3 separate regions of the Homo sapiens genome follow, and regions 1 and 2 are each linked to region 3. The links come from fine-mapping of genetic effects on gene expression. A gene starts in region 3. Each other region holds a variant in brackets. All regions are shown on one strand. Distances are from middle to middle. Region 1 overlaps ELAPOR1 (endosome-lysosome associated apoptosis and autophagy regulator 1). Region 2 overlaps CELSR2 (cadherin EGF LAG seven-pass G-type receptor 2). Region 3 holds the start of SORT1 (sortilin 1).

The links.
Region 1: its variant is fine-mapped to the expression of SORT1 in whole blood (INTERVAL, PIP above 0.99).
Region 2: its variant is fine-mapped to the expression of SORT1 in liver (GTEx, PIP above 0.99).

Annotation. Positions count from the first base shown.
Region 1 is chr1:109,205,903-109,208,745 of GRCh38, reverse strand. ELAPOR1 (endosome-lysosome associated apoptosis and autophagy regulator 1) reads right to left here. Exons shown (of 22, transcript NM_020775.5): 22 at 1,965-2,843. Among named protein-coding and RNA genes, the nearest start is that of SARS1, 6.6 kb to the left of the region's middle. The variant G/A (reference allele first, on the strand shown) is at 1,628.
Region 2 is chr1:109,273,849-109,276,348 of GRCh38, reverse strand. CELSR2 (cadherin EGF LAG seven-pass G-type receptor 2) reads right to left here. Exons shown (of 34, transcript NM_001408.3): 34 at 598-2,327. The coding sequence ends at 2,300. Among named protein-coding and RNA genes, the nearest start is that of PSRC1, 8.0 kb to the left of the region's middle. RefSeq lists cis regulatory regions at 1,381, 1,366-1,385 and an enhancer at 66-2,097. The variant C/A (reference allele first, on the strand shown) is at 1,381.
Region 3 is chr1:109,396,323-109,399,165 of GRCh38, reverse strand. It overlaps SORT1 (sortilin 1), which reads left to right and starts at 1,248. Exons shown (of 20, transcript NM_002959.7): 1 at 1,248-1,579. The coding sequence starts at 1,274. PSMA5 (proteasome 20S subunit alpha 5) reads left to right here. Exons shown (of 9, transcript NM_002790.4): 9 at 1-124. RefSeq lists an enhancer at 114-1,095 and silencers at 1,122-1,251, 1,292-1,361, 1,372-1,471.

The sequences.
Region 1 (2,843 bases), 190 kb after region 3:
CTCACTGCCCCGCAGTTTCAAGCTTGATTGTGTCTGTTGCTTGTTTGTTGCATTGCACAGTACACGGTTGTATTCATAAAGATTCATAGCGGTACTCCCATGGGACTGTTTTTGCCCTGTTATTTCCCACAGTGGGGTGACGTGGAAGGCTGAGTGGGATCTGTGAGGTGAAAAGGAAGCAGAGGGGCAGAGAGGAGAGCATATTCCAATGCTGGAGGCATGAAGGTGCTTATGACTCAGAGACCATCAAAAGCTCAGTGTGGTTAGAGTAGAAACAATGTTGGGAAGGTGGGCCGGTGGGCCGTTAGGGACCCTGTAGGCCACGTAACTGAATCTATTGGAGACACAGTTTCTTCCTCTATTGTAATGGGTGTAATGGGGATAGTAGCTGCCTCCAGGGCTGTTCTGAAAATGAAAAAAGGCAATGCTGTGAAAGCATTAAGTCCAGGCTTGACACAGATGCCAAACGAATGCGTTTTCTTTTCTACTTACCTTCTTAGAGTTTGGACTGTATGTTATAAGCAGGGGTGATGTTCAAAATATTTAACCACCAGTACAACCCAGGTACCACCCAGTCAAAGTAGATGTGGGTCATAAACAACCAGCCTTGGAGTGTAGGTGAGCTGCTGCCAATTGCTCCTGCCTGACAGCAATAAGGAGCCATCAGAGATGGCACATTTGAGTGCCATCAGATGTGTTAGAAAAACGGCTCTGAGTGTTCCAGCTCTTGTAGAATTTTTTTATTTTTTTTACAGACAGGGTCTGCCTCTGTCACCTAGGCTGGAGGGCAGTGGTGCAATCCACCATCATAGCTCACTGCAACCTCAACCTCCTGGCCTCAGGCGATCCTCCAGCCTGGCCCTCCCAAAGTGCTGGGATTACAGGCATGAGCCGCCACACCCTCTTTTAGAATTTGGTTAGCAGGTTTTCTGCCTTTTACCAGAAAACTTTTCATGAAAAAAAGAAAAAGAGCTCTGGCTACAGAGCAGGGGGGTGATACTGGTGTGGGAAGCACTGGCGCGGAGAGGCCTGTTAGAAGACTAGAAATTACCTAAGGACCCTGACGAAGAACATCTGGCACTTAGTGCCATTCAGTCTGAAAAGTGTGACATTCCCAACTCATCTATTAATAGCTGAGAGAATTATTTTTGGGGATCAAGTGCCCTCAACTAGAATAAAGTCCTGAAGCAGAAAAATCCTGCCAGGCACGCTGGCTCATGCCTGCAATCCCAGCACTTTGAAGGCCAAGGTGGGCAGATCTCTAGAACCCAGGAGTTTGAGACCAGCAACATGGTGAAACCCTGTCTCTCCAAAAAATACAAAAATTAGCCAGGTGTGGTGGCGCATGCCTGTAGCTACTCAGGAGGCTGAGGTGGGAGGATCACTCAAGCCCAGGAGGTTGGAGCTGCAGTGAGCTGAGATTGTGCCATTGCACTCCAACCTAGGCAACATAGTGAGCCTCAGAAAAAAAAAAAAAAAAAGAAAGAAAGCAAAAATCTAGCAACCTCAGGAAATGGTAGGCCCTTGATATCATCTAGGATTTTCTCCACATCTAGTCTGTAATAATCTACTTCATACCCAAAGAAGCTAATTTTGCTTCTATTTGTGGATTTATTGTTATGTGGCT[G/A]GCCTCATGTTTCCTGAAAGAAACCTGAGCAGAAGGGAAGGGAAGTAGCATGCGAAGTGGTTTATGAGTTATTTCTTTTGAGCTCATTCAATCTTGGTGTGTTGGGTATCATTAGATGCATTTTATTATTGTGGAAACTGAGGCTTTGGTTATTGACTGATTCCTCAACAAGTAGTGGGAGGCTTCTAGCCTATGTCCATCTTGTTCCAAAGTCTGTGCTCTTTTCTCTGCCTCTCTGCGAATGTGGAATCCTTCTCCTTTTCAGTTTAAGCTTCCAGGACACTTACATTTCCCACTCACCCCTCCAGCCACCCAACCCATGTTTAAGAAAAACAACTTGTAAGGTATGTTTTTATTTTACAAAAAAAAAAAGTGACATGCAATAACCCATCTTCTAACAAACTATTAACGCTTGGATTACAGGGTAAAAAGGAAATCCAACCAGCCCTGATGAAAAAAAATTCGATTTCACAAAGCTGAAAAAATCTATTACAAAGTTTCTGTTGTATAAATATAGTCAGTCTTATCTTTAATGTAGTCAGACAAAAAAAAGTTTTGTTGGCACTAAAACAAAAACAAAAGCAAAAACCCTACTGCTTGAATACACCACAATCTTCATTTGTATTCCCAGCCAAATACAGATGATGTCTATAGCATGACAGTTACTGCATGTTCCAGGACTCAAGGTAACCAAATGAGATTTAAACATTTTATCATACTCCCTCTACCAACAACAGCTTGGACAGACCACTTTAGCCCTGGGTCAAGGACTAAAGCCTTTGTTCATAGAAAATTGAACATGTAGGCCAGGCACGGTGGCTTACACCTGTAATCCCAGCACTTTGGGAGGCCGAGGTGGGTGGATCACTTGAGTCCAGGAGTTTGAGACCAGCCTGGCCAACATGGTGAAACCCCATCTCTACTAAAAACACAAAAATTAGCTAGGCGTGGTGGCGCATGCTTGTAATCCCAGCTACTGGGGAGGCTGAAGCAGAAGGATCACTTGAACCCAGGATGGGGAGGCTGCAGTGAGCCAAGATCATGGCACTGCACTCCAGCCTGGGCAACAAAGCTGACTCTGTCTCAAAAAAAAAAAGGAAAAGAAAATTGAACATGTGTTTGCTCTCAAGTGGGCGGACAACTCTGTGAGTTTGCTGAAAACCATTGAATCGTATGTTTTAAAGGTGAATTGTGTAATATGTGAATTATATCTCAA
Region 2 (2,500 bases), 120 kb after region 3:
GCATATATACTTTTAAATATATATCATATATATACACAAAAACAAAACTTAGGCTGAGAAGTAATGTTGCAAAGCACACACTTGGCTTCAGTATGAGTAGCTGCTTCATTTTCCAATGGGAAAAAAAAAACAAAAAACAACCCTGAGCAGTATAGTTAGGAGGCACTGAGTCACTGACCACCATTCAATTCCAACCAGCCTCTCAATGCAGCCCTCCCTGCTTCTTGAATTCTGCCCCAGAAAACTCATCCCTGTCTAGGACTCAGCCCTGAGGGGCTGGGCTGGAAGGCTGCCTGCCCCGTGCAGCCTCTCCCACCGTAGAAGTCCTTTCCGTCCTGGTGAAAAGGACACCTTCCTGCCCGCCCACCATGTCTTCCTTGGAAATGCCAGGAAATGGGCTCTGTGCTGATCCAGCTATTTGGGAGCAGTGTCATGGACATGGGCAGAGGGACAGGCTTATCAGCCAGTGGTGTCTGAGTCTCCCGACCTCCCGGTGGGGCCTTCTGGGCCCTGCCGGCTCTTCTGTTTTCCAGAGACCAGACCTTCCTCCCTGTGGGAGGACAGGGTACCACACAGAAGCGGACAGTGACAGTGCTGTACCCGCACAGAACTAGTTTATTCAGTAGTATGGGGCATGAAAAAACAACAACAACAAAACGCTACCCTATTTACAGCAACAACCAAACTGTACAATCTGATGGTTAGTACCAAGTTAGCATCCAGCATCTTTGTATTTTTTTTAAATCAAGTCATCAGTAGTAAAAACCAGTTAAATTTTTAACCCTTTGCAGGAATTGCTGAGGGGAGAAGACGGGGGAGAATCCACGGCAGAAAAGCCAGAGGCTGGCCTCACAAATGAGAAACAGGAGCCTTTCTTTCCTGCCCACAGCCTCTTTTTCTAGCCACCTGCTCCAGAAGGAAAGTCAGTGACAAGTCTGGAATACATGCTTGGAGTAAATGGTGACTCAGATGAAAAGCAGTCGGCAAAACTGAGGAGAGGGGAGGAGAGGTGGGGAGATGATGGCCTGGGGCAAGGGGAAGGGCGTCAAGCCCCCAAGCCAGGGCTGCTGGGAACACCCAGCCTGTGATGGCCATATCAGACCCCCGGGACTGGACACGAACCCATCCCAACACAAAAAGCAAATAAATAAAACAAATATATTAACTCTCTCTTCACAGGGAGCTGGGGTGGAGTCGGGGAGAAAGAGGAACAGGACCTGGTCCTTTGAAGAAGAGAGCCAATTCCAAGAAGGGGTTAAAAATAGAACATGTCTCAGAGGCCACAGCAGGTTAGACAAAGTAGCATTTGTCTGATTTTGGGGGGTGGGGTGGGTGAGTGGACACCAGAACCCAGACTTGAAACCTGTGCTTGATTGAGCA[C/A]CCTCAGGGCAGCCGAGCCAGCACTGTGTTTACTCTTCCTCCCCCACCCACATCACAGCAAAGAAGCGCAACTTAACACATGACTGGCCTGCCCGGGGCGCGGGGCGGGCACGAAAAATGAAGCACTTTTGGGTCAGCAACTGAGCAAACACCTGGGCTGCCGCGCACGGCCAGAGTCCAGGAAAAGGAGAGGGGCTGGGGCTGCCCGACCCCCGCCTGGGGGCACAGGCTCCCCTGAAAATGTGTTCATGCAGCATTTGGGGGTCCAGGGGCGCTGAGTCCTTCTGCCCCCTCACCGGACAGGGCTTTTCCAGTTCCTGGGAGAGGCAGTGCGGGCAGGACGAGGCACACCCTTTGCCCTGGCCCCTCACCGTTCTGAGGCCTGCCCGGGTGCAGCCTGAAGGGTGTGAAGCCCTGGCTGCGTGTGGCTTTGTCCTTTCCTTTTGGTGATGGCGTATGAGGGGCAGGCCCCCCAGGAGTCCCTCTCCTCCCAGAGGCACAGCAGATGGGAAACTGAGGAGAGGCTGGGAAGCATCCTGGGAGGTCCTATCCTCTTTGGGAAGGGAAAGGGGAGTCAATTTCCAGCGTATAAAAAAAATGAATCCCTGAAGTCATGAAGAGTGGAGATCCTTTTTTAAATTCTTTTTTTCCTCTTTTCTGAAAAACTTTGTCTTGGAGATGTTGGCCCCAGGGGTCCAAAGTGCAGTGAGGGGAATGGTGGGGGGGGAGTTGGCACTAGATGGCCTTAGGTGGGGTGAGTACCCCTCCCGGCAAGGCCCAGGCTCCTCAGATGGACGTTTCGTCGCTGCTGCGGGCAGGCGATGGGGAGCGGGGCAGGATAAAGCACAAGACAGGAGCAGGGCATGAGTGCGGCTGGGGAAGGGAAGGGAGCCTCGGGCGTAGGAACCACGGCCCAGGGTTAATGCAGGAAGTTAAAGAAGAGAAATCTGGAGAGGCAGGAAAGGAAAGTGGCAGAAAAGGCAGACAGAGGGTTAGTTGAAACAGAGGAGAGAGTGAAAGCTTTCACCAGACGAAGGAAACAGGAAAGCACCCCCAGCTCCCCATCCTCCCGCACTCTGCCCTAGGCTGGGCTGCGCCGCGTAGAGCCTAGGAGGGGTGG
Region 3 (2,843 bases):
AATGTGACTGGAAATATTTTAATGTAAATATCGGGTTGGGTGCATTGTATCATTTTGCTCTACAATGACTATATCCTCATTTGGGTTTATGGCCAGTTTATAATTAAAAGTAATCTTTACTTGCTTTGAGTGTAATGACTTGCATATTTTGTATCTTTCTATTTGCTACCTTTTCTACTGAACAATTTCTAGCTTTCTGAAGGGATGGAGTCAGTAAGCTTAAGGATTCAGAACTGGTTTTACCTGTGCTACGTGTTGTAGAAGTTGTGTGTGCAGCTTCTGCGGTAAAGGGAACAGCGTAGGGGTTTTATTTTATTCATTAGAGGTGGATCGGGGTGCTAATTTAGAGGACATCACATACTGGAACCAAACTTGTCCGAAGCTCTCACTGCAGAGTTAAGGCACTTTGGTAAAATAAATGTGCATCTAGGAAATGATCATGTGTACAGTAGGCATTGGATCATTCTCTTGCCCCTCTTTTACCTGCCCCTAATGCCTAAGCTACATTCGAAGTCCTGGAAAACCTGTAAGTAATTCCGCCTTTGGCCTACCTCCCCTCAGAAGAGGAAGGTGAGAGAGGCCAAACGTATGGAAAGACTATTCTTCAGGCTTGCAGGAGTCACGGATGTCCTGATGTCTGTCTCCGTAGGATGTGGCCCACATCAGTTCGCATTCACCTTCTTGCAGCAAGGCAGCTGCTTAGCAGACAATGGGCGCTCCAGTGAGCGGGGTTTATAAAAACCCGAAGCCCCGGTTCATGATGGAGCCCCCTTTTCCAGCTGAGCAAGCTCAGGGATTTCCTGGGTAGGTTTTTCCAGGCTCTGCCTCACCGAAGGAATTTTAGGAGTGTCTCTGGGGAACAGGAGGGACGTAACCCAGCCCCAACTTGAGGGCGCTAGAGGTGCGGCAAGGGGTCGCGACGCCAGGAGCCCGGGGCTCGGCGGGAAGGTATGAGAAGCTCCTACGTGAACTCCACAAGCCGGGCCCGGGAGACGCCGGGCGAGGCGGGGTTGACCTCAGCAGTCTCTGCCCCGTTCCAGCCAATCAGTCCCGCATCTTAGCATCCGAATCCAGGACCCCCGAAGCCGGAGGCGACGCGAGCCAATGAGGAGTGGGCCGGGGAAGAGGGACAGGCGGCCAGCCTATGGGGCGGAGAGGCCCGGCCGCGCGTATCCAAGGAGCGCCGCGCTCGGCTCGGGGGTGTGGCGCGCGCCGGCGGGGGTGGGCGGGCGCGCCGGGCGGCAGGTGTCGGCGTCGGCGGCATTCGGCGGCGATGGAGCGGCCCTGGGGAGCTGCGGACGGCCTCTCGCGCTGGCCCCATGGCCTCGGCCTCCTCCTCCTCCTGCAGCTGCTGCCGCCGTCGACCCTCAGCCAGGACCGGCTGGACGCGCCGCCGCCGCCCGCTGCGCCGCTGCCGCGCTGGTCTGGCCCCATCGGGGTGAGCTGGGGGCTGCGGGCGGCCGCAGCCGGGGGCGCGTTTCCCCGCGGCGGCCGTTGGCGTCGCAGCGCGCCGGGCGAGGACGAGGAGTGCGGCCGGGTCCGGGACTTCGTCGCCAAGCTGGCCAACAACACGCACCAGGTGAGCGGGCGCCGGGCCCGGGAGCCGCTCGGGTGCGAGGTGCCGCCCGCGTGCCCCTCCCGGCCCGTGCGCCCCGCGACTCCCGGAGGAGACCCCAGCCCTGCCGCGCCCGCGTCCCCCGGGCCGCAGCCCCGAAACTGCGGCGGGCGGGCGGGCGGAGTCGGGCCCGGGCGGCCGGCGGGGCTGTGTTTTGTCATAGGGGAGGCAATCTTAGACTTCCACCGCATTCTTTTTTTTTTTTTTAAGTTGTCAAAATCTCTTGAACATCGTTTTTCGTCTGTATAAATAATCAGGACCCAGTAACGCTGTTAGGCCCCAGGAAGGTGAAGGAGTAATTAACTCTTGAGCGCTTGCAGAAGTTGGGCTGCGCAGAAGCAAAGGTGTGTCCTCTCTGGGTCAGTACTTTCCGGGTGGGAGAGGCGGGAGTTCAGGAGGCCCGAAGCAGCGATCTGGTCACCGTGTTTTAATAGTTAAGGGGACTAGCTTGGAAATGAGATGGCAATATTTATGTGATCTCTTTTACTGCTTCAGATTTGACCTTCTGTCATGGTACGGAAGTCTGACTAGCATGTCTATATCCCGTGGTGACAAGATTTTCAATAGTTAAGAAACGCATTGCACATATTCTGCTTTGAGCCAGCTCTTGGTCAAAAGACTTTCAAAATTATGGGATTTCTGTCCCTGGGGACAAGCAGCTCAACCTTTGCACACTACTGGACTGACAAAACTAATTATTAAGAAAGTCCTGGTTCCTTGCTTCAGCACAACTTGGGCATCTTTCTCCTATTTCTCTAAAATTAACAATTTAATCCTTGCTAGCCACATTTGCATAATGTATTTTCAATTCTATATATTTTCTCCCTTGCCTGTTTTCCTCTTTCAAAGAAAATGAATTGCACTTGGGGGCAGAGATGGGTGGCCAAGGCTCTGTGCCAGCACTTGTCCTTCTGTAACCGTTTTTCAGCGTCAGCCAAGCCTCAGTCTCCCTTTGGACTGCCTGGTTATCTGGACCATACTTGTTACCTGTAATAGAATTCTCTGATCTGAGGACACAAGACACAAATATTCAGGAATAATTGTGCTTAGTGTATCCCGAGCAGCAGCTGTGTAAAGGTAGCCAAGCTAGTGCTGGAGGGTGAGACAGGTTGGGTAGAATGAGTACTGGGAAGTCTTCCTACTTGATGAGAAAAAAAAATCGAATAGACTTCCTTCTCACAGTGGGGGATTGAGAAAGGCTTTACAACACTAATGCTTAATTTATACT